Linked DNA regions of Homo sapiens: region 2 is linked to region 1. The links come from fine-mapping of genetic effects on gene expression. A gene starts in region 1. The other region holds a variant in brackets. All regions are shown on one strand. Distances are from middle to middle. Region 1 holds the start of LINC01727 (long intergenic non-protein coding RNA 1727). Region 2 has its middle 17 kb from the start of BETALINC1.

Region 1 (15,844 bases):
GTGATGAGGCTTTAAGTCATTGCTGCCACAGGGGGCCACCAAGAAAGGGTTTACAACAGAAGTGATTTCTCTATGTGGTTTCAGGGGTGCCAAGTTGCGGGGAGGATTCAATGAAAGGGTTAAGAGGAATGAACTGTTTCTTTTGACTCTGGGTACAGAAAGGAGCAGAAGTACCCCCTGGTCCCAGCCTTGGGGTCAACTTTGAGGCTGCCCTGCCCTTTGACTAGGGCCTCCTTTTCCCCTTCCTACCTATGCCAGGCCCTGTTTTGCTGTGTCTGGAACCCAGTGCAGAGCCCACCTCCCCGTGACTGGTGTTCCCTCCTTCCATGGATGGAGTCTGAAGAACCAGGTCTTTGCACCTACAGGAAGCCCCCAGATCAGAGCTGCCAGGGAAGTTCTGTGTCTGCAGAAGGGAGAGGCGCAGGAGTGAATAGATTGTTTTTTATGTCTTCAGGCTTTTTCAGCTTTCTCTTTTTAAAAGAGACTAACTCTGCATATAAAATGCATTATCTCTGTATACCTGCTAGCAAACAGCCTTCCTTAAACAAATCAACCTATCCAGGGCTAGAGTATACAGCTGCCCAGCCTGGGAACTGCACAATCCCAGGGAGGAAGAATGCTTTTCACATCAGAGTTTATATGCAGCACAGAGTCCTGACAGAGTGGGATATACTGTGAAGCTACATCTTCCATTGCATAATGTTCTCCTTTGGGAACGTGAATCTAAGTATCTGCCTTCCCCACCCAAGTCAGTGGGAAGTGGTTTCATTGGCCACCAGATTTCACAGATAATAAAATGGGAGTGTTTTCCCTTTCCTCCAGAAATACTTTTTATCACCAAGTCACCACCTTACTCCAACGTTTCTGGAACTCACTACTGTTTTTGTTGGTTTCCAAGCAGCAGCTGGAGACCTCCCTGGACCAACCAGCAGCTGGATGCAAACCCAACTCAGGTTAGAGCTTAACTCCAGCAAGCACAGCGCTGCCTCCTACAAGCCCCCACATAGCATTTGCCTCCAAAACTAGTTAGGCAGGATCCCATAGGCCTCCCTGTAACAATATCTCCATAGGAAGGAAGGAAGGAAGGAAGGAAGGAAGGAAGGAAGGAAGGAAGGAAGGAAGGAAGGAAGGAAGGAAGGAAGGAAGGAAGGTATCTGCCCCAAAGCTGTTCTTGACCTTTTTTTGAGTGACTTCACTTTATTTTAAGCTTTATGCAGAAAGTGCAATTGTATTAATATTTGTATCTTGCTATTTCATATTCACTGCAATTCAATGTGTAAAAGCTGCCACAGTGACACTAAGTGGTAAAGAGTTAGTGGTCTTCCCATCCACTAAGTGCATGGAACCAGAACAGAGCAGGGGCCTGAGCCCCACCGCCTGAGGCCAAGTTTCCATCCTTCTATGGACTTCTCTTCTCCCGTTTTTCTCATCATTAAAAGAGAGAGTGACCATGCCTATTTAAGAGGAAGGTTATAGAGATTAAGTGACATTATTCAACCTGTCTCAAGGGGCCACTGGGGAAAGTTTTCTATCTGTAATAATGGTGTTTCAGTAACCTCACAAGCTAAGAAAACCATCAATGTGGACAGATGAATCCTGAATTCATAAACAGCACCTTCCAGGTAGCAGGAAGGCAGGTGAAAGCTAGCTTCCCTCCAGGAACTCTTTGCTCATCCCACCTCTTTAATTAAATTCTTGGGCCAAGTGTAGTGGCTCAGGCCTATAACCCTAACACTTTGGGATACCAAGGCAGGAGGATCTCCTGAGGCTAAGAGTTTGGGACCAGCCTGGGCAACATAGTGAAGCCCCTGTCTTTACAAAATATTTTTTAAATTAACTAGGCAACTTAGGAGGCTGAGGCAGGAGGATTGCTTGAGCCCAGGCATTCGAGGCTGCAGTAAGCTATGATGGCACCACTGCACTCCAGCCTGGAAAATGCCTGAGCTATCTAGGTTATTAACCACCAACCAAAGGCTGAAATCCAATAGGTCTTTAGTTCTCTTTCTTTATTTCCCTCCAAAATGTGATGCAGCTTTTTCCCTGGGGCGCTGGAAGAAGCTAGGGCAGACAGATAACAGCAGTTGAAGGTGGAGATGCTGAAAAGCATGCTTGGCGTGGATGGAAATTTGGCCTCAGGCAGTGGGAATCAGGGAAGACCATTAACTCTTTACCACTTAGTGTCCCTGTGGTAACTTTTACATATTAAATTGCAGTGAATATGAAATAGCAAGATACAAATATTGATAAGATTGTACTTTCTTCATAAAACTTAAAATAACATTAAATCACTCCAAAAATTGTCAAGAACAGCTTTGGGCAGATTGCATTTTCTCTTTCTTCTTCTGTTAATTTTGCATGTTAATTTTCTTCTTAACTGTTTAACATGTGCTGCTATTTGATGATACAATTTTCAAGAGCAATGAGAGGCTGGGAAATGTTTCCTGGTGTGGCCACCACCTAGGAAGACAGTTGGTGCCACAAGAGCTTGTGTAGGGGAAGTTCATGGGCCCGAGGGTTGACCTGCTGGAGCGGGCAGCCGTGCACCCATGCCGGACTCAAGGAGGGCATCACACATGGAGGGGGCAACACAGGCCAGGATGTAAAGCTGGAAAAGTGCAGGGCATGTCCGGGGGCGTCCAGCTCAAGTGGCTGTTTGAGAATTGCTTGTGCTATCGGACGGAGAGGTCACGCACATTGGACGCGAGAGGATCGTGGGTCACAGTCTGGGAACCAGAGCACCAGAGCCCAAGGAGGGAGGACCACAACACCCAGGCCCCTTACCACGCTTATTCCAGCAAGGTAAAGTCCCTCTGGAATGGCTCATGCACCCGGCTTGTGGACAGGAGTGGGATGGCGTGGCTGAGACGGAGATAGGAGGGAAGCAAGGGGAATGGGAAGACAGCTGCCTTGGAGGCCACTCCCAAAGGAAGGAGAGCAGGATGAGAAAACCCCAAATCCACGTAATGCCCTAAAGTGCACTGGGGTCAGCTAAGGCGATGCAGATTGAGGAAGAGGCTCCGAGTCAGTAAGACCAGCACCTAAAATTCCTCTAAAGAAAGGCACTAAAACTCCAGGGCCCCTCATCAGTGTTTGAAAAGATATTTGGCTGCACTTATACTTTAACATGTCCCATAACGTGCCCTGAGATACCATTTTTCACTTATCCAGTTGGCAAATAACATAACGCTCAGTGACTCCGGTGCTGGTAGAGGTGAAGCAGAACACACAAGGGTACAAACTGGCAAGGCTTCCACAGACGGCAACTTGCAGTTCTTTTTAAAAAACCCTCTGAGACAGGAATTCCACTACCAGGACTGTATCCTACATGTGTCCCCACACATGCACATAATGACAGTTGTACAAGGCTACTCATTGTGGCACTGTTGTCATAGCAAAGATTGGAACCAACCAAGATGTCCTTCAGGTGCGGACTGCTTAAATAAATAACACCTCATCCACATAATGGAATGCCAGGCAGAGAGAATGAAGAAATCTGTTTCTTCCTAATGACATAATCTCCCATTATTTAATGAAGAAAAGGGGCAGGCTATGTATGTCAGGTACAATTATTGGTGGTTTTTGAAGGGAAAATGAGAAAGAGAAAGAAACTTTTTTTTTTCTTTTTGCTTATGCATGTACTATCTGTGGAAGGATACAGAAGACGCTGATTACTTTAGTTGGCTCTGCTGGGGAGAACGGAGCGGCTGGAAGACAGAAGAATAAGGAAGATGAGATCTAACACCTTTCTGTTGTTGTCGAATTTTGAACCAGATAGAAGTTTTATCTATTTTCTAAATAAATACAAAAACAAAAACCCCAGGCCCTGAATACAGCTTTAGGTGAAAACGGTGTTCCCAATTCCCACTCCTCACCCATACCCAGCCTCCTATCTCCCTCTCAGCCACGCCATCCCACACTTCCCACTCCTCATCCATATCCAGCCTCCTATCTCCCTCTCAGCCACGCCATCCCACACTTCCCACTCCTCATCCATACCCAGCCTCCTATCTCCCTCTCAGCCACGCCATCCCACTCCTGTCCAGCCTTTTCCTTCCATTCCAATTTTATAAAACTTCCCTTCACCTCACTCCTTTGGCGGGATGATTTTTAACACTTCACAGTTTTACAAGCTTTTGCATTTCAGATTTGAGTCTCTGACTTAAATGAAAAGCTGGAAGTGTTTCTTATAGAAAAACTCACATATATGTACAAAGTATTCTTGCAATGGAAGAAAAATGAAAGGCATCTAAATGTCCATCTGTAGGGGAGAAAAATCAAACAAATCAGATTATTTCCACACTGCACAACAGCATGCAGCGGTAAAACAGTCAGATCACTTTGTGTTTAAAAACCTCAGGCCGGGTGTGTGGCTCACACCTGTAATTCAAGCACTTTGGGAGGCCAAGACAGGAGGATTGCTTGAACCCAGTAGTTCAAGACTAGCCTGAGCATCGCAGGGAGATCCTGTCTCTACAAAAAATTAGCCAGGCATGGCAACTTGCACCTGTAGTCCTAGCTACTTCGGAGGCTCAGGTGGGGGGATCCCTTGAGCCCAGGAGTTCGGGGCTGCAGTGAACTGTGCCATTGCACTCCAGCCTGGGCAACAGAGCAAGACCCTGTCTCAAAAATAAATAAATAAAAATAAAAATAAACCTTATACAATATATTTTCAGACTTTATATAGTACATAAAAATATATTATCAATATAAGCATAAACTTTATATAAACATATTGTATAAAGCATAGAATTAAATGTATTATATTTTTATATATTTATATAAAGTTTTAAAATATTTTTACATTTGTAAATATAAAATATATACACATATATGCCATACAAAATATATTTTATGCTTATTTATAAGTCATACACTTCATATGTGCACATGTAATGTATATTTCTACATGTCTACATCTCTGTGTAACATATAGAAACGAATATATAATATACATATATATCATTTGTAAATGCATAGGAAAGGAATGTAAATGTTCTCTAGGGGTGTAGTAAGATCGGGATGATAAAAGGAAATGCAGGAAAGCTTGAGATTGTTACTGTATGAACCTGCATGGGCTTGTGTGATGTTTTTAAACAATAAAAATTATTAACCATCTTTTGGTGCCTGGCATGACAAGTATCTGCCACTAGAGGGCACTGGAGATCGCTAAATATTTCCCAGGATTATCTTTGAGGGAGGGGGCGCGGGTGCAGGGGATTTGAAGGAAGCCCCTTTACCTCTTTATAAGGGTCCCTTTTTCACGCTGGGGGACTGGGCCCTGAACCTGAACTTTCAGTGAGGGTAAAGCTTGGCTGGAAGCCCGCAACCCTTCTCTCTCCACTCCCTCAAATAGGCCCCTGCAGCCATTTGGGGTGGGAGTCCTTTATCCAGCCCACCCCATTTTGCCCACCAGTTTCGCCCACCAGCCCTGGTCTGCGGGACGCTGCTCCGGTGTGGAAGGTGGAACTGGCATCGAGTGCATTTCAGTGAGCTCACCTTCACTCCTTATTCCACATGGGTGTTCAACGGGGAGCCCTGAGACATTGGAAGGGGCCGTTTGTGATTGCTCAATTATAGTGGAGACATCTTCGCATTTGGGGGAGGAAGAGGGAAGCTAGAATTTCTGAAATGCTCAAAATTCAGCCTGAAATGCATGTCGGTGAACAACCAGTTGCTAATTACCTACCCTAGGCCCTAACTCTCTGACACGTAATCATAGAGCATTATCGCCTGGTTTAGTATGAGCGGAATATGCAGGAACCCAGAGTCAGTCAACGTGTGTTGTTGTGCCTAGAAATTTACTGAGCGTTTTTCACCAGTATGGAAAACCACGGCACCATGACGCCAAGCCGGTAGTGTCTGAGTCACTGGTCCTGTGCTCCAGGCTTGGCCTGGCTCTGGGGTTGTCGGGATCACATTCTTACAAGACAAACACCTGGATACTTTATTACGTCTTCTAGAGAGCTTGTGCCCAAGCATTTACCTATCGAATATGTGTGTGTGTGTGTGTGTGTGTGTGTGTGTGTGTGTTTACCAAAAGTTACCTTTTTCAACTTCTCTTTTGTTTCTCCTTTATATTACAGAAAGAACTTTTTGTAATGATGCATGTAAGTAGATTATACAATCTGTGAATTTCATTTCAAGATAGGACAGGAAGCGTTACAAAATATTCGTGGTCTCCAAAGTGATTCTGACACCTCATGATGACTAAGACCTTTGGTTGCCGTTGCCTCAAATAATTTCCTCCTAGAGCAGCAGTTCTTCACCTCGGCTACACATTGAACTATGTGGGAAGCTATTAAAAATACAGATGCCTGAACCCCACAGCCTTCATTATCTTGTGAGCATCTGGGCCAAGTTCAGTGCTGGTGCTCTTGTTCAGATGGATGTAGCTGGTGGTGCAGAGATCCATGAGCTTGCTTTTATGGGACTTTCTGCTGTTGTTGATCTGGGATGCAGTCAGGATACTAGGGCTTTTTTAAAGCTCCCCAGTTGACTCTAATGCAGCCAAATTTGAGAACCATTCTCTGCTCAATACCTTCAAAAATGGAAAACTAACAACCTCTCACTCAGTGCCACCCCAGGTATGACGTGCAGAACAGCAGCATCAGCATACCTGGGAGCTTGTTAGAAATTCAGAGTTTAGGATCTATCTCAGACCAGCTAAATCCAGATCTTGGGAAGTGGGGCCCAGGTACTTGTATTCCACTCCACGCCTCCACAACATTGGCTTACTTTTAATTTAGCTTTAAATTACAATTTTAAAATGGAATTAACCAGAAGGCAAGGGTATACGGGAAATTTTTTTTAACACTTCTCATGTAAACTCAAGTCTTTTATTCCTTTTTCAGGGGTAAAGCAGGCTTTTCCATTTACAAGGTTATTCATGAGTTGCAAAAATTCCCTCCCTTCCTCCATGCTTTTGTAATTCCTACATTCCGCCATTTAGTCTTGGTGGCCACAATCAAACAGAAATCATGAGGGCCCTTTCCTCTTGCATCCGTAGTGGCAACCTTTGCAGCAGACAGTAACTGCTCCAGATCTGTCAAATAAACGCAAGTATCTGTATTTCTAAATCACCTCTCAGTAATACTTTTGCATACTGGAGTTTTCACTTTGGCATGCCCTAATCCTTACACAAGCACGAATTCCTCTAAATCCCAGCCTGAATTTGTTTAACTTACCAGAGAAGGCTTGCCCATTGAAGATTGGTTCTTCAGCCACTGCTTTTCATTCTCATACCAAACAAGTGCATTTTTAAGAACTCGCGAGAGTCTTGCTACTCTTCAACAGAGAAAGTCATCTCCAAATTAATCCACAGTCAGGAGCACCTCGTGCTGCTTTTATATATCATTAAAGTCCTGTAAAAGCAAGCTCACGGATCTCTGCACCACCAGCTAAATCTATCTGAACGAGAGCACCAGCCCTGAACTTGGCCCAGATGCTCACAAGATGATGAAGGGCACCCCTCCTCCAGCCTGTTCTTGTCCTCTCTCCCAGGGAGGCTTAGTCCTTTGGCACAAAAGCAGTGGTGGCCATTCATTCCTTGCCCTAGTGAAGCCAACTTCCTCCACATTCATTCTGCCCATCAGCATCTGATGCCCCCACAATGGCAAACACTGCAGGGGACCAAAGTCTGACTCCAAAAGGAGGCAGAATGCCAGGTCTTCTGCAGTGATGCCCTCGAATGGCCATCTCTCACTGCCTGGGATTAGCCTACATTGAGATCAATGATTAGCAGGTAACTTGTGAAGCCGACTCCTAAAAGTCCCATTCCTCCATCTTAGCTCATTTGGGAAAACAGTTTTTCCAACACTTCTTACGTAAATTCAAATGTTAGATTCTTTTTTTGGATTTCACAAATAGGACTAATAATTGATCCACTCATGTAAATATGAATACAGTGAATTGCATATAGTAGGCACTGGATTATTTGTTAAAGTGTTGAATTAGGCCAGACACAGTGGCTCGCACCTGTAATCCCAGCACTTTGGGAGGCCAAGGAGGGCAGATCACTTGAGGTCAGGAATTCAAAACCAGCTTGGCCAACATGGCGAAACACTGTCTCTACTAAAAATAGAAAAAAAAAAAATCGCTAGGCGTGGTGGTGGCACACATCTGTAATTCCAGCTACTAGGGAGACTGAGGCATGAGAATCTCTTGAACCCAGGAGGCAGAGGTTGCAGTGAGCCGAGATCGCACCACTGCACTCCAGCCTGGGTGACAGACTCAGACTCTATCTCAAAAAAGAAAAAATGTTGAATTAATACATGTATGTGAATACACTATATGTATGTGTACATGTGCATCTATCTATATAGCTGTATCTCCATCTGTATGTTCATTGATCTATGTGTCTGTATATCTACAGATAGACTGCCCCACCTGACCCAACAACCAGTCCAATAAATGAGCCCTTATTCTGCACTGCCAACCAGACTTCACAGCATTCCTAACATGTTTCACTGAGTCCTCACACAAAGCCAAGAAATAGGTATTATTCCTGAGGTCTCATAAAACCATCTGAGAAATGTGTAGCAGAGAATCAAAGCCATGTATGGCAAAAAATAAAAAATTAAAAAAAAAAGGCACTGGTGCAAAGATTTCCAGAAGTACTGGAGGAGCCATGGGCCACCTGAGAACTATGGACTTCACAAGATCAGATGCAAGGGAGAGAAATTACCTGGTGTAGGGGAGGATTAGACCTTGGCCACCTGGATTCAGTTTCCAGTTTGCCAGGGCCTCAGCAAATTCTTCCTTTTGTGCACCTGTTTCCTGGTAAACTTCCTGCAGAAGCAGAGAAGCTGGTAGGGCTTGGAGGAAACTGAAAAACAGGGACAATGAAAACAGTCCTTTGTATGACACATTTGGCCCTTGTCAAGAAATACAAACGGGGAACCTAGCTTAGGAAAAGCAAGACGTCTTCATTCATTTCCTCAAGGAAGTGGCCCTTGCCTATGACTGCTACGAGTCAGTTTCCAAAAAGCTCAATATTAAGCTCTGATTGCTCCCTAGCAGAAATGGCTGCTTTCATTTATTCTTGCCCATCTGGCACAAAAGCAATATGCAGAGCTCAAAAGAGGTACGCAGAGGTGGCCCGGTAAACACTGGCCTCCATTTCATTTCAGTGGGGGTGGGTCATGGTTCTGCGGGAACAAACGCTGAATCCTTGCTCCGGGTGCATGAAAGGCCGCATCCAATTTTGCCTCCCGTTGCTTTCCCAGTATCCAGCATGCCTGGCCCCACAATAGATGCTCAATAAACACTTGAGTGAATAAATTATTAACATATAATCATGAACGTTGTTACCAAATATTAAACACCTTTTATAGACCAAGCTCAGGGCAAATTGATTTACATATCATTGTTTCATTTACTCCTCCTGACATCTGAAGGAGGTAGAGGGACCATGGTAGATAAGGACGTTGAGAGGTCAGAGGAGTAAAGAGATTGGCACAGGATTGCACAGCCTGTCCTCAGCGCCAAAATTCATACAGAGACAGTCTGACTCCAAAGCCTGTTTTGAGGAAGGTTTTGTCATGTAATTTTGTAATGTATTATGTAGTTTTTATAAAATTGTAATTTATGTGATTTTTATCTATTTGTCATTTTAAATTTTTTAATTATGTGGTTGCAATTTTACATGATTATAACTTATTACAATTGAAATTTTATGTAATTGTGTAAATTTTAATGTAATTTGGAAGATGGCCCTTTTTAGGTAATGAAGTTGCATATGTATAAATTTCACAAAATATTTAAGTGAGAAATAACTCCAATCTTTTAGACTGTCTTTCAGAAAATGGAAGAAAGTATATTCTTCAACTCATTTTTGAGACTAGTGTAGACTTGAAACCTTAATTCGTAGTGGAAGGGAGATGACAGATGAATATCATGTATGACCGTAGATGCAAAAATTCTAAACAACAGAAAAAGTCAGTCTGAATCCAGGGATATGAAATAGAAGGATACTTCATTACTAAATTTAGTTTATCTCAAAGACACAAAGCTGACTTAATGTTAAAAAAATCAATCAATATAATTCATCACACTGAGAATATAAAGCAAAAACGTGATTGTTTCACAGATCCAAAAATCAAGTATAAGGTGTAACATTCATTTATTATTTAAAATAAATACTATCAACAAACTAGAAAAAGAAGGGGACTTATTAATGTGATATTGTTTACCTACAATAAATCTTCAGCAAACATCTAACTTAATAATGAAATATTAAATACTTTCCTCTGGAAATCATGATGAGGACAAAGATGCCCATAATAACCACTTCCCTTCAACATTTAGAGTAGAGGTTTCAGCCAATAGAGTAAGACAAGAAAAATATACTAAAATGCACAAAGATTTAAAAAGGAAAGAGCAAAAGTATTCTTATTTTGAAGATAATGATTGAATACATAGAAAACTGACAGAATAAGATATTAGAAACTGTGAGTTTTACAAGGCTACTCATTACACAACAATCGACTACATTTCTCTGTGTTAGTAACAAATGGCTAGAATATTAATTTAAAAGAAAAATATATCATTTACATTTGTGTTGAAAGGAATATCAAGTACCTAGGAATAAATCTAACAAAACATTTCGAGACCTCTATGCAGAAAACTGTAAATTTTTATTAAGGAAGACCTAAATAAATGAGAAGCAACACCATATTCATGCACTGAAGGGCTCAATGTCATAAAAATACCAATCCTACATGAACTTGGTGTATAGATTTACTGATCCCAACTGAAATCCCAACAAGCAGATTCTAAAATGTATATGGAAATGAAAAGACCAAAAGTGGTTAAGCTATTCCTGAAGAACAAAGAAGAGAGTGGATTTGCTCTGCCCAGTATCAACTTAAAATAACACTACATTAATTAAAGCAGCCTAGTGTTTGTACAAGGACAGATAATAGATTAATGGAATAGGATAGAGTGTTCTTAAAGAGATCCAGATATATATGGACACTTGATTTATGGCAAAGATAAAATTGAAGGAGGATAGAGAAAAAACTATTTTAAAAATGTATGTGGCTGGGACAATTGAGTATCCACAAGGAAAACATGAAATGAGGCCCCTACCTCAAACCATATACAAAATTCAATTCCAGGTGGAGTATATGTGAAAACCAAGTTGAAAAGACCAAGAAAAAAAAGCTTTTAGAAGGTTAAAGAAAACTGATAAATTCGAGTACATTAAATATAAGAATTTTGTTAATCGAAAGACAACATTAAGAGAGCGAGAAGGCAAGCCACAGAGTGGGAGAAAATATTAGGGGAACATAAAACTGACAGAGAGCTCAAACTACATAAAGAATGTCTATAAATCAGTAAGGAATAAACAAAACATAGAAAAATGGGCCCCCAAAACCCTGATATGCGTTTCAAAAAAGGGAATCCAAATAGCCAACAGACATATGAAGGATGCCCAACCCTGTTAGTAACCAAGGAAAGGTAACTAACATAGTGTTCCTATTAGCCCAGATCTGGAACAACTCCAATGTTCATGAACTGTAGAATGGATAAATAAATGGAGGCATAGTCATACAATACAATACCATACAAACAATAAAAATAAATAAACTTCCCAGGCACGGTGGCTCATGCCTGAGTAGCTGGGATTACAGGTGTGCACCACCACGCCTGGCTAATTTTGTATTTTTAGTAGAGAAGGGATTTCACCATGTTGGTCAGGCTGGTCTTGAACTCCTGACTTCAAGTGATCCACCCACCTCAGCCTCCCAAAGTGCTGGGATTACAGGCATGAGCCACTGTGCCTGGCCTATTTCCACCTTCTTAATGTAAGGATTTTTGAGATTCATGAGCAGCCCTCATCAAATACCTGTGGATTCTTTTAGCAGTGGGATTTATGTGTTGTAGAAAAAACAGTAATAGCTAATATCAAGCCCTCTTCTAAGTGCTTTAATTGTTTTAATTCATTTAATCCTCATAACCACCTTGCGAGTCAGTGATCTACCAAGGGCAGGTCACTGGGGCATTGTCTGTAGAAAAGTTAACAATAATAGTAATCCTGATAAAACTTTTCTGCTTTTTATTATCATGGTCCAGCAATTCTTAAAGAGATCAGGAATAAAATCCTCCTCTCTAGAAAAAAAATATTTTGTTGATCAAAGGTCTAAATAATTCATGATGATTACTGATAAGTTATAATCTTATATAAATAAATGTAAGTTTCAAAATAGCATCTTTTTATTACAGATCCTTTAATAAACATTGCATCCTATTCAGAAGTTAATTCAGAGAATTCTCAGTTCTACAGCCGGCACCTGACTCATGTGGACTCAGGCTGTTTCAAAAGTGGGTTTCTATGGCTGTGTTGTCTGAGCTGCCTTTCCTTCAGGTGCAATCACAAGACAAGCCCTGGGATGCTGCAGATTCACCATGAATGGTGGATTCCAAATAAAAAATGATAGCAGGATGCCTAGAGAGGTGAAGATGCAAACTTTGAGTTATTTCAGTTCTGTCTCCATGGGACCACGTGGAGTTTTTATTTGTGTTTAAAATTCCAAATGACAAAACAGAATGCAAACTATGAGATGACTAATTTAATATGAAACGGGCAAAATTGAGTTCGGATCTGAAAAAACGGTACCGCATTTGAATAGTATCTTTAAAATTAAAATGTAAACCAGACGTTCCCCTTCCCCCTCGTAGCGCTCTGGCTCTGCAGGAGCCTCTGCACGGAGCAGAGAGCCTGGACATTGCACTCCTGATGCCCCTGGACGCACACCCGCGGGCACTGTCCCAGACCTCATGGGGCACAGGCAGTACTTGCCTACCGGGCAGTGTTTTGTGCCAGTGAACTCAAGGGGAAGTAACTTAAATAAACACTGACCATGGCTAAAATGTCTCGGTGTGAGAACAGGAGGTCAGAGTCCAACAGGGCACATGGTGAAGTGCAGCCGGCCGGAAACCTGGGGCAGAGCCTGGGTCTATTTTCTGGCACTCAGCCCTGGAAAGACTCCATTAGACCAGAGTCCCTGAGGGACAAGCACCCTGTCCTTCTTACACATTATCCCCTGCCATTCGCACAGGTGTTTCCCCCCAGATCATCTCATTCCACAGGTTCCCCTCTATTGACCCCGCCACCTCCCACCCATCCAGCTCCCCAAGCTTGAAATGCTGGTCTTCAGCATCTCCACACTAAAACAGTCGCTCTCTCCTCAAAGTCGCTTGAGTCTCTTATTTCCTTCCTTTTTTTTCCCAGTGGGAATACCCAGGAAAGGCCTCCACTGCCTGCCATCTGGGCTCTCCAGCCCCTTTCTTGGGTTCCCAATGTCATCTCTGCCCTGAGCCTCTCCTGCATTTCACACTTCGTTTAGTCACACGTCTGCTTCAGGGGCTGACTTCCTGCCTGAATTAAGCCAAATCCAAAACTTTTCTGGATTCAGTCAACTCCTGCATACTCTCTCCATCATGTACCCTCAGTCCTAGCCAGCTCGCCAATGTCATTTCTTCCTCTTTTCCACCTGAGATCCTTCCTCCACATAGACTTTCACAATTCTCCACAAAACTGAGCCCATCAAAAGCAACAGATATTCTGGTGGGTCGGGCACCGTGGCTCATGCCTGTAATCCCGGCACTTTGTGAGGCTGAGGCAGGTGGATCACTTGATATCAGGAGTTCGAGACCAGCATGGCCAACATGGTGAAACCCCATCTTTACTAAAAATACAAAAATTAGCTGGGCATGTTGGCGTGCACCTGTAGTCCCAGCTATTCAGGAGGCTGAGGCAGGAGGATTGCTTGAACCCAGGAGGCTGAGGTTGCAGTGAGCTGAGATCGTGCCACTGTACTCCAGCCTGGGCAACAGAGTGAAACCCCGTCTCCAGAAAAAAAGAAAAGAAAAAAAAGCAACAGACATTCTGTAATCCTATTCTAACCATCCCACTGCCTGTTTGTATTTTTGGTTTTTGTGCTTGTCTTTAATGGCTGCCTTCACCCCACTCATCATCTCCACTGAAGCCACCACCTGTTTCTCTGTTTGGGGTTTAAAGGTGTCTGAGATCTTTCCCATCATGCAAATAAAGAGAGATTTCATGGCTTCTCCAAGCTATCACCGAACTTGGCTTTCAACTGCAAGTCTTCTGGATTCAAATCCAGTGTTCCTGCCCCTACACCAGGGATACTTAATAGCATACAAGGTAACTTTAGCTGGTACTCAGAAGAAATTTTAATCAGTTCTATATTGATTTTAATGTGTATTAAAAAAACTAAAAACCGTCACATCCTCAGCTCAAGTTGCCATCTCCCAAGTCTAGTAATAGCTCTTTTAATGCACCACCATTCTCAACAGAAAAACTGTCCACAGTCTTATTTACTGCCATTTCATAAGTGAGAAGTAGCAGAGAACAAGAGTCTGTTTAAGCTAGTGGTTCTGTCAACCTTGGCTGCCATGAGAATTATTTGGAGAAACATTTTTTTAAAACACCAGTGACTGGATCCCCGTCCCCTCCCTGCCGTGGTAAAATTGGTTGGGAGTAGAGTCTAGATGGTGTAATATACCCCAGGTGATTCAAATTGAAATCACGGTCGAGAGCCTCTGGTTTACATCAGTGACTGCACAGCTGGGCCTGATAATTGCATTTCTTTTTCTTGTTCCTTTTTTTTTTTTCTTAGAGATAATGTCTCACTCTGTCTCCCAGGCTAGAGTGTAATGGCACAATCATGGCTCACTCCAGCCTCGAACACCTGGGCTCAAAAAATCCTCCTGCCTCAGCCTCCCAAGTAGCTGGGACCACAGATGCAGGCCACCACACCAGCTAATTTTAAAAATTTTTGTAGAGATGGGGTCTTGTTATGTTGCCCAGGCTGGTCTCAAACTTCTGGCCTCAAGCTATCTTCCTACCTTGGCCTCCCAAACTGTTGGGATTACAGGCGTGAGCCACCACACCCAGCCATGAATCGCATTTCTAAAAGCTCCCGTGTGATGTTGATGCTTCCCCTTAGATTCAGGGAACACACTTTGATCACCACTGATGCAGATGAATCTGGGAGGACCACTGTGGGTTTTTTCCTTCCCAGCATACTTTTGTTCTCTAGTAATAGCTCCTGACAACATGCTTTGGAGAGCCATGCCTCCTCAACTCTTAGGTGTAGGTGATACCTCACCACTTCAGGAGCAGAAACCAGACTCAAGTCTGGCCAATCCACAGAATCTGTGTCTGCTCCAGTGAGTAATGGGTTCAGTGATGGGTGCATAATATAGTCCAGTGAGAGTCAGTGCTGAGACTTTTGCTGAAACCCTTGAGAAAAGGTGCTAAGTTGGCAAGACATAGGCCTGGAGCTGCTGGTGACTGTTTTACCTTTGCCTGAGAGGAACCTGCCTGAGGATGGAGCAGGCAGGTGAAAGCAAAAGAGACTGTGAGACGAAGTAGATGGCACCCTTTTATTCCCTGGATCCAGCCAAACCTGAATCCAGACATACATTTTTCAGTGGCATGAGCTAATAAGTTTCCTTTCTTGCTCAAGCCAGTTTGAGGTGGGTTTTTGTCAAGTGCAGTTCAGAAAGTGCTGATACATGAAACATCACAGTGCACCCGCCACCCCACAGAGGGGGATTCCAGCCTCTCTTCTGGAGGCTGCCTCCATCAGGCAACCATCTTCAAAAAGGCCCCAGGATGGAGCAACAGAACCCTTAGATGTCAGTCAGTGTCATCACCTCCCTGCTTATATGGGAAGACTGGGGGACAAAGAGGGGTAAGGAATTGCCCCAAGTTGTGCCTTCGACAGAGCCAGATAGGATATCAGCCCTTGGCTCTATCAGTAGGCACACCCACGCCAGGGGGCGGGTGAGAGCCAGCAGGGAGCGCCACCCT
Region 2 (15,844 bases), 22 kb after region 1:
CCCTCTGTCTCTTAAACTCAACTCTGTAATCATGGGGAGAGCCAAACATTGCACATTGCCATCCTTTCAGCAAGCTCGTTCACTCTGAAAATGTCAGCTCAAGGTCAAAATCACTTCTGAGTCCTCAAAGACTCAATCCCAAAAGGCCGGTCTTCTAAGAGCAGGAGATCCCGAGTAGAAAGAAAAGACCACCCAGCCTCCCCTCTAAGTGCACAGTCCAGCTCCTGGACCACCTGCCCTGGTGGCCCACCAAGTCCCCGGGCTGCCTGCACTGGATCAGTGCCAGGGCGTTGGAACAAGTCCTCCTTTGAACAAAAAGACGCCTAACAGTACCATTGAACAGACACACTGCTAGGATCCCTGCACCCACTTCCTGTGAAAATTACTAGGATGTTTACATCAAAATCACAACAGCATTTAACTGGAGAGAAGGGGCAGAAAAAACAAATACGATGGTTCAATTGTCTTTTATTCTGCATTTCTTGCATTTCAGAACCAGAGAAAGTGGAGAGGAAAAGAAGAAGCACTTCTATATGCAGCTTAAACTTTAAAGATCATATTATTCAAGACACAGCTTTATTGGGGGAAAAAATAGGGATAAAACAAAGCCAGATGAACTTAATGCGAATGGGATGCTTTTATGGAATCACCAACGTTTCCATTGTTCAGCCTGAATTGCCCATATTTTTGTATTCACTGCAGACAATGAGTTCTTGTGACATTCTGGCATATATTATACTGGGGGAAGAAAACCCAACCTGCTTTATTTGTTCCATTTTCTGCTTTTAGATGTAATGGAAATGTTAACATGCTTAACATCCGTGGCCTCTCTTCCAGCCTCGCTTCACTTTTCGTAGTTATCATGAGTCTTAGTGAGGGTACGCGGTGCTTCCAGACAAGAGGTGGTGCATGCTAATGTAAGCTCAAAGCCAGCCTGCTCTATATCCTTCACCGTGCAAACTCTCCCTCTCATTCTTTTAAAGACTTTCACGGCATATAGTCTCCATTATGATTAAAATGATCTCAACTGTCCTTCAGAAAAGAATGTAAGGCTTTTGACTACGTGAACCAGTTCAAGGAAAATCTCCCAGGAGTCCAGGACATGAAGATCACATTGTCGAACCTCTTTTATAAGCATTCAATTCCACCTGGTTTTATAGCTGCCTCACTCCCCTCTCTGGATGGGTTTCTCTTACATTAATTGATAACACTATGTCTAATTTGAAGTTCACGCCAAAGGTGGGAGTTATATAAATAAACGATTTCAGCTTCATGAGAGTAGGAGAAGGCAAAAGTGCTCTCATATTTTTAAATCCTCTACAGGACTAGAATGACCATTCCATCTCAGTTGCCTGCTTTTCCAAAAAGGTGTGCATAAATTTCTTTCTTTAAAAAAATGTGTGCGGACGGGCTTGGTGGCTCAAGCCTATAATCCCTCAGGTGGATCTCCTGAGGTCAGGAGTTCTAGATCAGCCTGACCAACGTGGTGAAACCCTGTCTCTACTAAAAATACAAAAATTAGCTGGGTGTGGTGGTGGGTGCCGGTAATCTCAGCTACTCGGGAGGCTGAGGCTGGAGAATTGCTTGACCCCAGGAGACAGAGGTTGCAGTGAGCCAAGATTGCACCACTGCACTCCAGCCCGAGTGACAGAGTGAGACTCCATTTCAAAAAAAAAAAAAAAAAAGTGAACTGTTCAAACTCTACACATTTTTTTTTTTTGGAGACAGGATTACCCAGGCTAGAATGCAGTGGTACAATCACAGCTCCTGGGCTCAAGCAATCCTCCCACCTCAGCCTCCTGAGTAGGTGGGACAGGTGCATGCCGCCATGCCCAGCCAATTTCTTGTATTTTTTTTTATAGAGATGAGGTCTCACTATGTTGCCCAGGCTAGTCTTGAACTCCTGAGCTCAAGCAATCCTTCCACCTCAGTCTCTCAAAGTGCTGGGATTACAGGTGTGAGCCACTGTGCCCAGCCCACATTTTTTTAAAAGGGGAATTTTCACCTGGTAATAGATATTTTCCTGTATGGTTACCCTTTGGGCCTGTCTTTACTATTTCCATACTGTCACAAATCCCACCACCAACTCCCTGCAAAAACAGGGAGAGAACCTATTATACGGAGAAAGATAGAGATTTGGCTGCCGAAAAGCTCCAAGTAAGTGGAAGGACACTTCCCAGCCCACCAAACCCTCCTCAGATGAATCAGGAGAGGCCTCCTGGTCTCCTTTGGGGACCTGAGAGGGATGGAGGGGGAGGACCGTGAGGAAGGCTCTGCAGCTCAGTTCCATGAGGTTTTCCCAGGTGGGTTCATCTTAGGCTGGGTCCCCAGCATAATGCTGGCACCTCCATGAACATAGAAGCCTCATAAGGCCCCAAAGGGGGCTGCAAGAGTAAACAGAATATGATTCAGCCTTAAAAAGGAAGGAAATTCTGACACATGCTACAACACGCATGAACCTTGAACACATTAGTGAAATAAGCCCATGACAAAAGGACAAATCCTGTAGGATCCCACTTATATGAGGTACCTAGAGTGGCCACATTCATAGAGACAGAGCCTCCATTCATATCATGGAGTTTGCCAGGGGCTGCATGGACCAGGGAATGGGGAGTGATTGTTTAATGCATACAGAGTTTCCATTCTGGAGGATGAAAGGTTCTGGAGATGGACGGTGGCGATGGTTGCACAATATGGATGTGCTTAGTGACACTGGACTGTACCCTTAGTAATGGTTAAGATGGGAAATTTTATATGTATTCTACCAAACACACAAAAAAAATTTTTCAAGCAACCAGGAGTAGCAGACAGCCACTAGACAGTGTTTTCACTGGTACTTCCCAAGGCATCTGAATTTCCAACCATGACCATTTGTTCCTGTGGGGTGGCCCATAGATCCAGCTTCAGAAGTCACCCACACCTTTATAGGAGCCAGAGCCTGGAAAATGCCACCTCTGTGGATGAGGCTGGATAGTGCTGTCTGCCCCACCACGGTCTCTCTCAGCCCTCGATGGCCCCTCCAAGACTCCAAGGGAGACCCTCCTTCCTAGATGTCACTTCAAGCTTCTCTCTAGACCTGCCAAAGCCCACAGCTTCCTTCTCATCCACTCATGAGAATCATGATCCAGCAAGTAGAAGAAAGAGACAGGACAATATTCTTTTTTGCTTGGTTTTGCTGTGGGCGCTTTATACAAAACACTAATTTAATATGATTATAATAGTAAAATACATTAAGCACATTTTTTAAAAATCCAGTTGCATTAACAACAAAATAAATGAAAATTAAAATAATAAACCAGGACAGCACAAAAATTTCAAATGATGCCCTGTGTTGTCAAAAGGGCAGAAAAACCAACACTTCTCATAAACTATGAAAGAGTAAGCTCTTCCTGGAAATCAATTTGGTTAATACACATAAAAAATCTTTAAAATTTGCACTTACTTTAACCCAATAACTTTATCTTTTAAATTATTTTATTTTATTTTACTCTAAGTTCTGGGATACATGTGCTGAACATGCAGGTTTGTTACATAGGTATACATGTGCCATGGTGGTTTGCTGCACCCATCAACCCATCATCTAGGTTTTAAGCCCTGCATGCATTACATATTTGTCCTAATGCTCTCCCTCCCCTTGCCCTCACCCCCTGACAGGCCCCGGTGTGTGATGTTCCCCTCCCTGTGTCCATGTGTTCTCATTGTTCAACTCTCACTTATGAGTGAGAACACGTGGTGTTTGGTTTTCTGTTCCTGTGTTAGTTTGCTGAGGATGATGGTTTCCAGCTTCATCCATGTCCCTGCAAAGGACATGAATTCATTTTTTTATGGCTGCATAGTATTCCATGTAAACCCAATAATTTTAAAGAAATAACTTATAGGGGCTCGGCGTGGTGGATCCTGCCTATAATCCCAGCACTTTAGGAGGCCAAGGCGGGTAAATGGCTTGAGCCCAGGAGTTTGAGACAAGCCTGGGCAACATGGCACAACCACATCTACAAAAAATGCAAAAATTAGCTTGGCATGGTTGCATGCCCCTACTGTAGTCCAGCTACTTGCGGGTGCTGAGAGAAGAGAATCACTTGAGCCCAGGAGGTTGAGGCTTCGGTGAGCTATGATTGTGCCACTGCACTCCAGCCTGGGTGACAGAATAAGACCCTGTCACAGAAAAAAAAAAAAAAAAGAAAGAAAGAAAAGAAAAAGAAAGAAAGAACTTGTAGGAATTTACAGTGAGAAAATTATCAATGGATTTATATCTCTGCCACCAAGCACAGTGCATGGCACACAGAGGTGCTCAGTAAATGTTTGCACAATGAATATTATTTACAAATAATATAAATTTTATATATGTAACTTACAACTTCTAATAGCTGTGTTAGAAGTTGAAAATGGTTTGCAAAGGAGGAACATCTACTATCTTTACTTAGCAAATATTATTTATCCAAAGAAAAGCAGCTGCATGATGCATCACAGTTTTGTTTTCTTGTGTTGTTTTTTGAGACAGGGTCTCTCAGTGTTGCCTGGGTTGGCCTCAAACTCCTGGACTCAAGCAATCCTCCAGCCTCAGTCTCCCACGTAGCTGAGTACATCACAGTTTTCAAAGCAGTTTCATATGCATCACTTCCTTGGCCCTCACAGCAACAATGAGGATATTACCAGCCCATTTTATAGATGAGGAAACTAAGGCCTCGGAGAGATTAAGTAAATTGTGAAAGACATTTGAAAATGAAGAGTCCTTGAAACAACGTGTTCTTTCAGTCCAAGCTCCCCAGCTTCCCGACAGCCCGGGTGGTAGGTTTTCTCCACCTCTTCCTTAAGTCAGTTCCAGCTCTCCAGATTAAACTAGCAAGCACCTAATTTCCATTCTGACTCCCAGCCATTGTCTCTTCTTTGCTTCTTGTGGAAATGATGTAGGAGTTGCTCCCTTGAGCACTCACTGTAGCTTTAGATGTGCTTCCTCTCTGCAGCATGAGCTACTCGGCCTTACTATTCCCCGTACTTAATTTGAGAATATTTGTTCAATTTGAGTGTGTTTTTGACCTGCCAGGTATCTGTGAAACAAAATAACTCCTACTGATAGCTTCTTATCAAGAGTAATTTAAAACATCCATCATCTACTGCTGAATGTCAAAATAAAGGTTGAGAGAAATTCCTGTTTCCCTAAATATGTTTTCTTTTCACTCTTGTCAGCATCATTGTCAATCCTGAAATTATAGTGTGCCATGGAAGACCTCAGAAATTGAGGCTTCAGAAACTGTTACAATGAGAACATACAAATCAGCCCGTGGTTCCCAAAGGCCCTGGACATAGTCGCCCCGGCAGAGGAGCCTGGGACCAACCTGTGCCAGGATCCGGAAACAAAATGAGCACCCTGGAGAGGCAACTGTCCCTCCTTGTAATCCTGGGTGGAAGTTTATAGTATTCAATTAGTTATTCCAGAGCCTTGTTGGTGTGCAGACTATTTTCTACCGCCCTCCTGACAATGATTAAGCAGAAGGAGGGAGAAAAGGACAAATCTATATTAATAGCCCCCTCTATTTAAACAACCCTGTGATTTTCATCATGTGGAGGCTGGAGATTGTGTTTTTTCAGTTCTTTCTGTCACCAACTCAGCTACTGGATGTACCTGGGTACACACCTGCCAACAGAGACCCAGCAAGAGATGGAGGCTGGAGGGAGAGGCATGAGCTTAAAGCACCAGCCATAACAGAGAACTTACAGAAAGATAATGTCATTCAGTGTTATCTGGTAGAAAACTCCAATGTTCCTAAGATCCAGCTAAGAAGTGCTCCCATTCTCCATTCCCAAGGTTCACCCCTGGAACAGTCTGGAATTGTCTTTAGAGGAAAAGAATTCAATCACTTCAGAAAATCAGCAAATATATATTAAGCACAAACAAAATTCAAGGTATGGTATACCTGCAAATAGATTGAGATATGAGAATTTTCCCATCTTTAAGGGATTTATCATTGTAAAGGAAGTTATTAGAAGTAGGACCTGGGACGTGGATGGTAGGCATAGGCTGGCTGTTCAGAGGCCTATGCACAAGCATTCCCTGCCACAAGGGTGGAGCTCCATTTCCAGCTTGTGACTGCTGGAGAGACAGTGGTGTGTGGAGTTGGGGGGCATTATATGGATGTGTGCCCCTTTAAGAAGGTTTTGATGGGCGGGGCGTGGTAGCTCACACTTGTAATCCCAGCACTTTGGGAGGCCAAGGAGGGTAGATCACTTGAGGTCAGGAGTTCAAGACCAGCCTGGCAGACATGGTGAAACCCCGTCTCTACTAAAAATAAAAAAACTAGCCGGGCATGGTGGCAGGCGCCTGTAATCCCAGCTACTCGGGAGGCTGAGGCAGGACAATTGCTTGAACCCAGCAGGTAGAGGTTGCAGTGAGCAGAGATCACACCACTGCACTCCAGCCTGGGTGACAAAGTGAGAATCTGTCTAAAAAAAAAAAAAAGAAGGTTTTAATGACTAACTTCAGTAGCCTTGTTACCTGCCTGAGCAAGCCCACTCCAAAAATACCCTCTTGTCCCCCAGCCACTTTGCAGCTAGCAGTGGTCATAGGGTAGGGTTCTGGTTTGGGCCAGCGAGATGTCTGCTGGGAGAGGCTTCCAGAAAAGCTTTGCATTCCAGATGAACACACAGACTCAGCTGGTACATTTGTTTGCCATTTAGTGTGCTCCACCCTTCTCCCCCTTCTCCCTACCTGGAAAAGAATTGTGAGGCCTCCAGGGACAGGGGACGGTAGCCATTTAGCCACCACAAGGCAACATGAATCATTCATATTCCAAAGCCCTAGGGATGT[A/G]GAATTGAAACAGAAGTGTCCTCTACCCAACCTCGACTACCTACTCAAGACTTCCTGTTATGCAGAAGGAAAAAAGTCCCTGTTAATATCTTCCGTAGCAGTCAGGTGTTTTGTGGTTTGCAGCCGACTTCACCACTAACAGAGATACCAACACGCTTAAGTTATGCGACCAATAGACACAGAAGATGAAAGTCGTTGCAAGAAATTTCCATTGTCTTGATCTTGAACTGACTTCATCAAGAATATTACCTATCTCTTCAGCTGTGAAACTTCTGACCAATGGAAGAGGATTTGCAGATTCTCAGGGCAAAACCAGATGAAATGGTTGGCAACTGTAAGGTTTTTATTTTATTGCAGGTGGCATTTAAGGCCCTCAGCTGAGTGGGTGCCTACGCGGCAACGTAGTTAAAACAAATGGCATAAAGCAGGTCTTCTGGTCACTGTGGAGTGGCTTACTAACTCAACTGCTCCAACCAACAGGCTGCATTTGGGCTTTTCTAAGACAGGAACCCTATCTTCTCCAGATATTATTTACTTTCCTTTACTTTCCTCCTTTTTTTTTTTTTTTTTTTTTTTTTGAGACGGAGTCTCACTCTGTCGCCAGGCTGGAGTGCAGTGGCGTGATCTCGGCTCACTGCACCCTCCACCTCCCGGGTTCAAGCGATTCTCCTGCCTCAGCCTCCATAGTAGCTGGGACTGTAGGTGTGTGCCACCACACCCAGCTAATTTTTGTATTTTTAGTAGAGACAGGGTTTCTCCATGTTGGCCAGGATGGTCTGGATCTCTTGACCTTATGATCCACCCACCTCGGCCTCCCAAAGTGCTTAGATTACAGGCGTGAGCCACTGCTCCCGGTCTTACTTTCTTCTTTCAAAGGGTCTCCTGATTCTGTTCTCACTGGGAAGCAAGGCTTCCAGAACTAAAGGCACAGAAGTAGACCATGGCTGGGAACCGTACTCTGGGATAAGACCTCTGAATGAATGCACTACTTTTTTTTTTTTTTTTTTTTTTTTGCCCTTGATCAAGTTTTTTTTCATTTTTAAATTTTTAACTGTGCTTAAAAAAAACATAAAAATTTACCATTTTAACCATTTTTAAGTGTACGGTTTGTAGGGTTAAGTATATCTACATTATTGTGCAGATCTCCAGAGGTCTTTCATCTTGCAAAGCTGAAACTTTGTGCCCCCTGAACAACAGCTCCCCATTCTCCCTCCCCAGCCCCTGGCAACCATCATTCTACCTTCTGTTTTTATGAATTCGTCATTCTAGGTAGCTCGTATAAGCAGAGTCATACAGTATTTGTCTTTTAGTAACTGATGTATTTCACTTAGCATAATGTCCTCAAGGTTCATCTATGTTGCAGCATGCGACAGAATTTCGTTTCTTCTTTAGGCTGAATCATATTTCATTGTACGTGTCTATATACCACACTTCTTTATCCATTCATCTGTTGGTAAACATTTGGGTTTGCTTCCTTGATCATGTTTTTATTTCTTTTATCTCCCAATCATCAATCCCTCCTGAAAATATCATTTAGAGTGCCTTCACTTGGATAAAAACTATTGGTTTCCATCTATTATTTCTACTTGAGCGTAATCATTCAAAAGGGAAAAGCCTAGGTGTTTGAATGTTCAGGATTATATTGTAGCCATCACAGGCCAAAAATAGGATGTATATAGAGGTAAGAATACCATGAATAGCAGCTATGAACATTCTAAAGAAATTATCCACAGACCACCAAAAAATTAATCCAACATTTCAAGATGGTATTTGAGACAATCCCTAGACTATTCTCTGCCCTGTTCTGTGAGGTTAAATGCATGCTTTACAATAAATGGAAGGTTTTTAAAAACATAGCTGTAATGTCCTGCAGCTCCCCCCATCAAAAAGTTAATTCTATTTCCCCATCCCTCAAGTCAGCTGGCTTTGAGCCACAGAACGTGACATGGTCCAGAGCTTAGGCTGCAAGGGAACTTACAACCTTCACCTTTGCCCCTTGGAACACCCTTTGATGATGTTGAAAGCTACTCTGTAAGGAAGTGGGTGAAATCTCCTGGAGGGCAAGGGCCACGTGGAGAGCCTACCCCAACTGACAGTTCCAAGTGCCAGCACTGAGTGAGGCCATGTAAACCTTCCAGTCCCACCCGCTTCAAGCTAAATACAACCGCAGAGGAAAGCCCTGGAGAAGCCAACAAAGGAAACACCCAGCCAATCCACACCACCACAAGAAGTAATAAACCTCTGCTGTTTTAAGTCACTATGTTTTGGGGGTGGATTCTTATGCAGCAACAGTTGACTGATACTCTGTGTAGGCACTAAGTTATCTCAGGGCCCATATTCCATTCTTAAGTTGTTTGTTTGTTTTGCTGAGTAAACAACAATTTAAAAAAAAAGGACAAATAGGAAAAAAAAACCTTTAATTCTACCAAGAACTATTAACTGATGTTAATGTTTTATTATTAATATCCTTTCTTCTGTACATAATTTATTTTTACTTTCATTGAGATATAAGCCACCCAAAAAAACTGTTTGTTTTTTTAGAAACTAACATGTGCTTGAGGCAATTTGTTCAATCAACTAATATTTACTGAGCATAATTTTAAAAAATCAGAATTAAGTTGTCCCAGTTACAAGCTTTGGAATCTGACAACCTGGATCCATTGAATCACTGCACTTACCGGAACCTGAACAACTTATCTGGCTGAGTCTCAGTTTCCTTATCTGTAAAAGGGGGGATAATATTACCTGACTTGCAGAATTGCAATGAAACGATAAATGTGATTGTGCAGGGAAGGCATGGAGCTGAGCCCCTGGAACAGAAAAGGCATGTGATAAAGAACATCTTCCACACCACGGAGAATACTCCAGGGGAGAAAGGCCAGCCCCAGCAATCATACAGAGCATCTCAGTCAGGCCACCCTGAGCTGAATTCTTAGAGTAACAGGGGATTTACTGCCTGCAGGCGTCTCTGGACAGCTATGTCTGCTCAGAAGTTTTTCCTAATACAAAGTTAAAATCTATTCTGCTCTAATTTTCAGTGATCTATCATCATTATTTCAACCCTCACATCTAAATAAAGCATGGAGATAATAAATTATCTCCCACATGGAAGCCTTTTCCAGCACTTTCCAATAGAACTTCCGGTGACGATGGAAATATTCCACATCTGTGCCTCCAGTATTAGGCACCTGCGGCAATTGATCATTGGGAATGTGACTACTACAACTAAGAAACTGAATTTTTATTTTATTGTATTTTAATTAGCTTTAAATAGTCCCATATGGCTAGTGGCTTTCAGATTGGTCATAAGTGTTGGACATAAAAAAAGCAACAAGAGTCCCCTCTCTTTTATTCACTAAATCAAACATCGTCCGTTCCTTTACATATCATCTATATGTGATCATCTGAGTCCTTCACATCCCAGTTCTGTCCTCAGGGATTCACTCTAATTTTCCACATCCCCATGAAAGGGTAACATCAGAACTGAACCCCTCTGCAGGTATCCCACGAAGGAATACCAAATTCTGATTAATAGAAACAGAGCAGCATCCCCGGGGCTAGCCTCGTATCCTTCATTTCTGTATTCCTAGCATCCACCCCAGGAGATAGCTCATTCATAATTGATGAGTGGATGAATACATTTTCTCAGCAGGGTGGAATACAGTGGAACTCTCACTTCCTTTGTTCCAGATATGAATTTCCATGACCGGAATCTAAGAACACATTCTCTCTTTTTTTAAGTTAATTTGGTGGGGGGAGACATCTTGACCTATATTGACCTTACTGTCAACTAAAGCCCCTCTTTTCCATGTCATCTCTCCTCCAACCTTGTGCTGTTGGGTATGGCTTTCCAAATGCAAGCCTTTACATTTAACTCTGTGATATGGTTTGGATATTTGTCCCTGCCAAAATCTCATGTTGAATTATAATCCCAGTACTGGAGGCAGGGCCTGGGAGGAGGTGATTGGACGATGGATTAGCACCATCCCCTTGTTGCTGTTCTCACGATAGTGAGTGAGTTCTCCCGAGATCTTGTTGTTCAGCAGTGTGTGGCACCTCCCTCCTACTCTCTCTCTTGCCCCTGCTCTCACCATGTGAAGTGCCTTATCCCCCTTTGCCTTCTGCCATGATTGTAAGCCTCCTGAGGCCTCCCTAGAAGCCAAGCAGATGCCATCACCATGCTTCCTGTAAAGCCTGCAGAACTGTGGGCCAATTAAACCTTTTATGTATACGTTACCCAGTCTATAATTGCTCATTATAAAATATATCAATGCAAGAACAGCCTAACACACTCTGAATATCTTTTTCTCTGATGTCCCACTTATGATGACCATGAGGACTCTGATTCACATGGCCACAAGTATCTATGGGCCTCCATGCCAACTGGAGATGGCTGCCCCTCTGGCTGGACAGCTCATGGCTTGACCATGGATAGCCATCTCTCTGGGAAGATTTGGAAAAAGCACTCACTCTGCTGGGGAACAGCCATGCAGGTTTGCTGAGCAAATCCCATGTCTGTGAGAATAAACAGTTATCCCTATTCTGAATGGACGCCCAGGTCCTAGACAGCTGGGCTTGGGAATAGGAGCAGGGGCTGAGTTCTGGCTCCCTCCCCACTGCCCTCCTGTTCCAATCCATCAGATAGTCCATCCAGTATAGATGGTCTCTGATATATGATCATTGGACTTAAGACTTTTCAACTTTACAATGGGTTTGCTGGGGGGTAGCCCCATGATAAGGGGGGAAGCATGTATACATTGCTTCCTAATTTAACTCTCTTATCTTCTATAATAGCACTATGCAAACTATCTGAGGGTAAGAACCAGGGTTTTCTAAATTTTTTATCATCCTCAGATTCACACTTTTGTAAAATACAACAAAAATAAATTATCAGAAAAATAAAATTTTAAAAATATAAGCCCAAACTTTATTTTTAGGTTAATCAGAGGGAACATACATTTCAGTAAATATAATCAAAACTAACATAATGAGGAAAAAAACAATTGTAAAAACTGGACATGCTCCTTTGAGAAGATGTGTATAGGCAATTATCGTATACAATTGCAATTACACTCTAAGCTTTTTGCTGCTCAGCAGTTACAATTGTGGGACAGTTAATCTGGGCAATACCTCCTTTAACAGTCCTCCCCTGGGAGGTGGATGTGTCCCCTCCCGTTGAATCTGGACAGGTTCTGTGACCACATTGACCAATGAAATGTGGGAGAAGTCATGCTTTACCACTTTCTGGAGCTGAACCTCAAGAGGCTGGGAATTTCTACTTCCTTTCTCTTGGAACCCTACAACATCAAGTAGAAAATCTAGTGACCTTGTTGGAGGGACCACAAAGAGAAACCCTGATTCTATCTGGGGTACAGCCCAGTCTTCCAGCCATCCCCTCCAAGGCTCCAGGCAGGTGAGCAAAAATGTCTTAGACCCTCCAGACCAGAGTAGCCACTGGCTGAATAATACCCAGGGATCCCAGCCAATGCCAGGTAAAGCAGAATTGCCTGTTGAGCCATGTCTGAAATCCTAACATAAAAAATCACTAGATATAATAAAATGGGCCAGGCATGGTGGCTCACGCCTGTAATCTCAGCACTTTGCGGGGCCAAGGTGGGAGGATCACTTGAGCCCAGGCATTCAAGACTAGCCTGGGCAACATAGCAAGACCCTGTCTCTACAAAAAATACAAAAATTAACCAGGCATGGTGGCATGTACTTGTAGTTCCAGTTACTCAGGAGGCTGAGGTCGGAGGATTGCTTGAGCCCAGGAGGTTGAGGCTGCAGTGAGCCATAAGCCATGATTGCACCACTGCACTCTAGCTAGGGTAACAGACTGAGACCCTGTATCAAAAAAAAAAAAGATAATAAAATGGTTCTTGTATTTAAGCCATTAAGTCTTGAGGGTAGTTTGTTCTATAGCAATGCATAACCAAAAAGAGAACTAAAGAAAAATATGTAAAGTTTTTAATACAGCAAACGAGCCTTCTTCTCGCTTGTTAACATATATAACCCAGATTGGATTGACAACAGTTCTGCTCACAGGGCATAATATACAGCTAAACCATTTCTAGTTTGGCTTGAATAACACTCACAGTAGAGAAACCTGTTGACAAAGGTACCTTTTTAGGAACTTCTTTAAACAATTTCAATAAATTTATAATATTCACTTTAAATTTTTATTCCAATTGAAGTAAGACTATTTTCAAAATTCATCTTCAACTCTTCATCAGAGGCCAGTTACAAAACTTTATCTTGTAAAGTTACAGGATATAGCAAAGATGATGAGACGCTTCTTCCATGATTAGATTACATAAGGCTGTGACTCCGTTTTGCTAGTAGACTCTTTTCCTTGTCAGTTCTGATGAAGCAAATTGCCATGTTGAGGAGGCCCACATGGTGAGAACTGTGAGTGGCCTCCAGCCAATAGCCAGCTAGGAGCTGGAGCCATCAATTCAACAATCCAGAAGGAACTGAATCCTACTGTGTGCCAGGATGTGGAAGCTCCCCTGGTAGAACCTTCAGATGAGACCCCAGCCCCGGTCTGCACTTTGATTCAGCTGTGTGAGAAACCCTAGAACAGATAATCCAGCTAGGCCATGCCTGAATCCCCAACCTTCAAAAACTGTGAACAGGCTGGGCATGGTGGCTCACGCCTGTAATTCCAGCACTTTGGGAGGCTGAGGAGTGAGGATTGCTTGAGACCAGAAGTTCAAGACCAGCCTGAGCAACAACGAAATACCCTCCCTATCTTTACAAAAAAAAATTAGCTGGATGTGGTGACACATGCCTGTACTACCAGCTACTTGGGAGGCTGAGGCAGGAGGATTGTTTGAGCCCAGGAGATTCAGACCAGCCTGGGCAACAAAGTGAAACCCTGTCTCCATAAAATACAATACAATACAATACAAAAGACAAAAAGCTGTGAGGAAATAAATGTGTGCTCTTTTAGGCTGCTAAGTTTACTATAATTGGTTATGAAGCAATGGATAACTAGTATAGATTCTGGTACCTGAAAGTGGGGTGCTTCCATAACAAATTAAAATGTAAGAGTGGCTCTGGAACTAGGCAGTGAACAGCAGCGGGAAGGATTTTGAGTGGCATCATAGAAAAAGTCTAAAGACTGGTGAGTAGAAATCTGGACTTTGAGGGTGCCGCCAGTGAGGGCTCAAAAGGAAGTAAGGAGCATGTTCTTAGAAGCTAGAGGAAAGGGATCCTTGTTATGTAGTGGCAGAAAGCTTAGCAAAGTTGTCATCTGCAGTTACATAGAAAGCATAATATGCTTCTGATGAACCTGTTTGTCTAAAGAGATTTCCAAGAAAAGAGCTGAAGATATCATTTGGTCTCTTCTTGCAATTTATAGTAAAATGTAAGAAGAGAGATAAACTGAGAGAAGGATGACAGCAAAACACACCTAACTTTTATCTCCCACTGGCCCTGTTCACTTTACTCAGTGCGGGGGAATCCTTCCTTGCCACAGATGGAAACTCCACCAGAGCCTCTGATTTTTCAGCTCATTCCTGGGAAGCAGAAGTCTTACAAACACTTTAAGCCAAAGTCTCAGTGTCATAAATCAGGGTGTCCAGTTAGTTATCAAAAGCTTCCCTCAGTCAAGAGTTAGACTTCTCCCCACCTTTCTCATATTCGTCTTCATATCCCCTTCAGGCACAAGTGTGGGTAGCCTCTGCTCTCCACCTGTCTATGCCCACCTCCTCCTCCATTTCCTGGTCATTGTTTTGGGCCAAGCTTCCTCCCCAGAACCCACCTGGGTGAATATGACTGGCATGTGGGGAAGAGGCCAGGCACTCAGCAATCCTTACTCAGCTAGGAGTTGCTCCCCTCTGTCTGGCAGGTATGCACTGGACATTTTCTCTTGGACACTGCCTTGAGTCCTGTGGAGATTCCCGCAGCCACTCTCTCCTGCACATCCCTCGGCTAAGGCAAGCATAACTCTATGCTAGGCAGACACTTGAATTGTCCCCGCAGGACCCTGGGATCCAGAGGCAAAGTTCGGTGGATTTTGCATACAGCTAATGAAGCTTAGGCCTGAAGGGCCCCCCGCATATCGAGCATTACAATTTATTAAGTGACTTTGAGCAACTCTTGAGATTCCAGTATAATTTTTCTTCATTGCTTTATTAATAGATTGAACTACATGAGTGGGTTTTGCACAACTCTCCATAACAATGTGTTTTTAAATTAAACCACTGATAGTTTATCTACATCACTGATTATTTCAAAGAACCAGTGCTTGGGTTTTTTCTTTAGCATGATTGTTTTTCTGTTTACAAATACACTTATTTCTGATTTTTTATCTACTTTAATCCCACCCTTCTGCTTTATTTAGATGTTTTGTTGATCGTTTTCTTAACTTCTTGAATAGAATACCCTTTATTTTCATTATTTCTTGTTTAATAATGAAACTGTTTACTTTCTTTCTGAAATTTATGGAAGTTTTGTTGTAGCTTAAAATGTGGTCCCTTTTTTGTGACTCTGACATGGGTGTCTGAATAAAAGTGTAGAGATTTCAACATAGATGCATGATGTGGCTGGTCTGTCATATGTAAAATTGATCTGTCTTATTACTTATCAATATTTTTACTTTTTATTTTGAAGAAATTCAAAACTACAGGAAAATTATAAGAATAATGTCAATGAACCGCCATATATGCTTCACCAGCTACTCACACTTTGCCATTTGTATGTGTGTACAGGTGTGTATGTGTATACATGTATGTGCGCATGTATGTATGTGAATGTGTATGTATGGATATGTGTATTGTGTACATGTGTATATGCAGATGAGTATATGTGGATGTATATGGATGTGAATGTATGGGTGTGTATATGTACACATGTGGATGCCTGCATACATATATGTATGTGAATGCATGTATGTGGATGTGTGTGGATGGATGTGTGTATGTATGTATGTGAATATGTGGATGTGTACACGTGTGGATGTGGATATGTGCTGTGTGCACGTATGTGTATATGTATGTGAATGTGTGTATGCATATATGTAGATGTATGTGAATG

What was found. PIP is the estimated chance that this variant, and not a neighbour inherited with it, causes the effect.
Region 2: its variant is the best candidate, but not a certain one, in a credible set for the expression of LINC01727 in whole blood (TOPMed, PIP 0.77).

Annotation. Positions count from the first base shown.
Region 1 is chr20:21,561,589-21,577,432 of GRCh38, reverse strand. It overlaps LINC01727 (long intergenic non-protein coding RNA 1727), which reads right to left and starts at 7,409. Exons shown (of 4, transcript NR_109880.1): 1 at 7,185-7,409. RefSeq lists an enhancer at 2,681-3,181.
Region 2 is chr20:21,539,598-21,555,441 of GRCh38, reverse strand. No RefSeq gene overlaps it. Among named protein-coding and RNA genes, the nearest start is that of BETALINC1, 17 kb to the right of the region's middle. The variant A/G (reference allele first, on the strand shown) is at 6,806.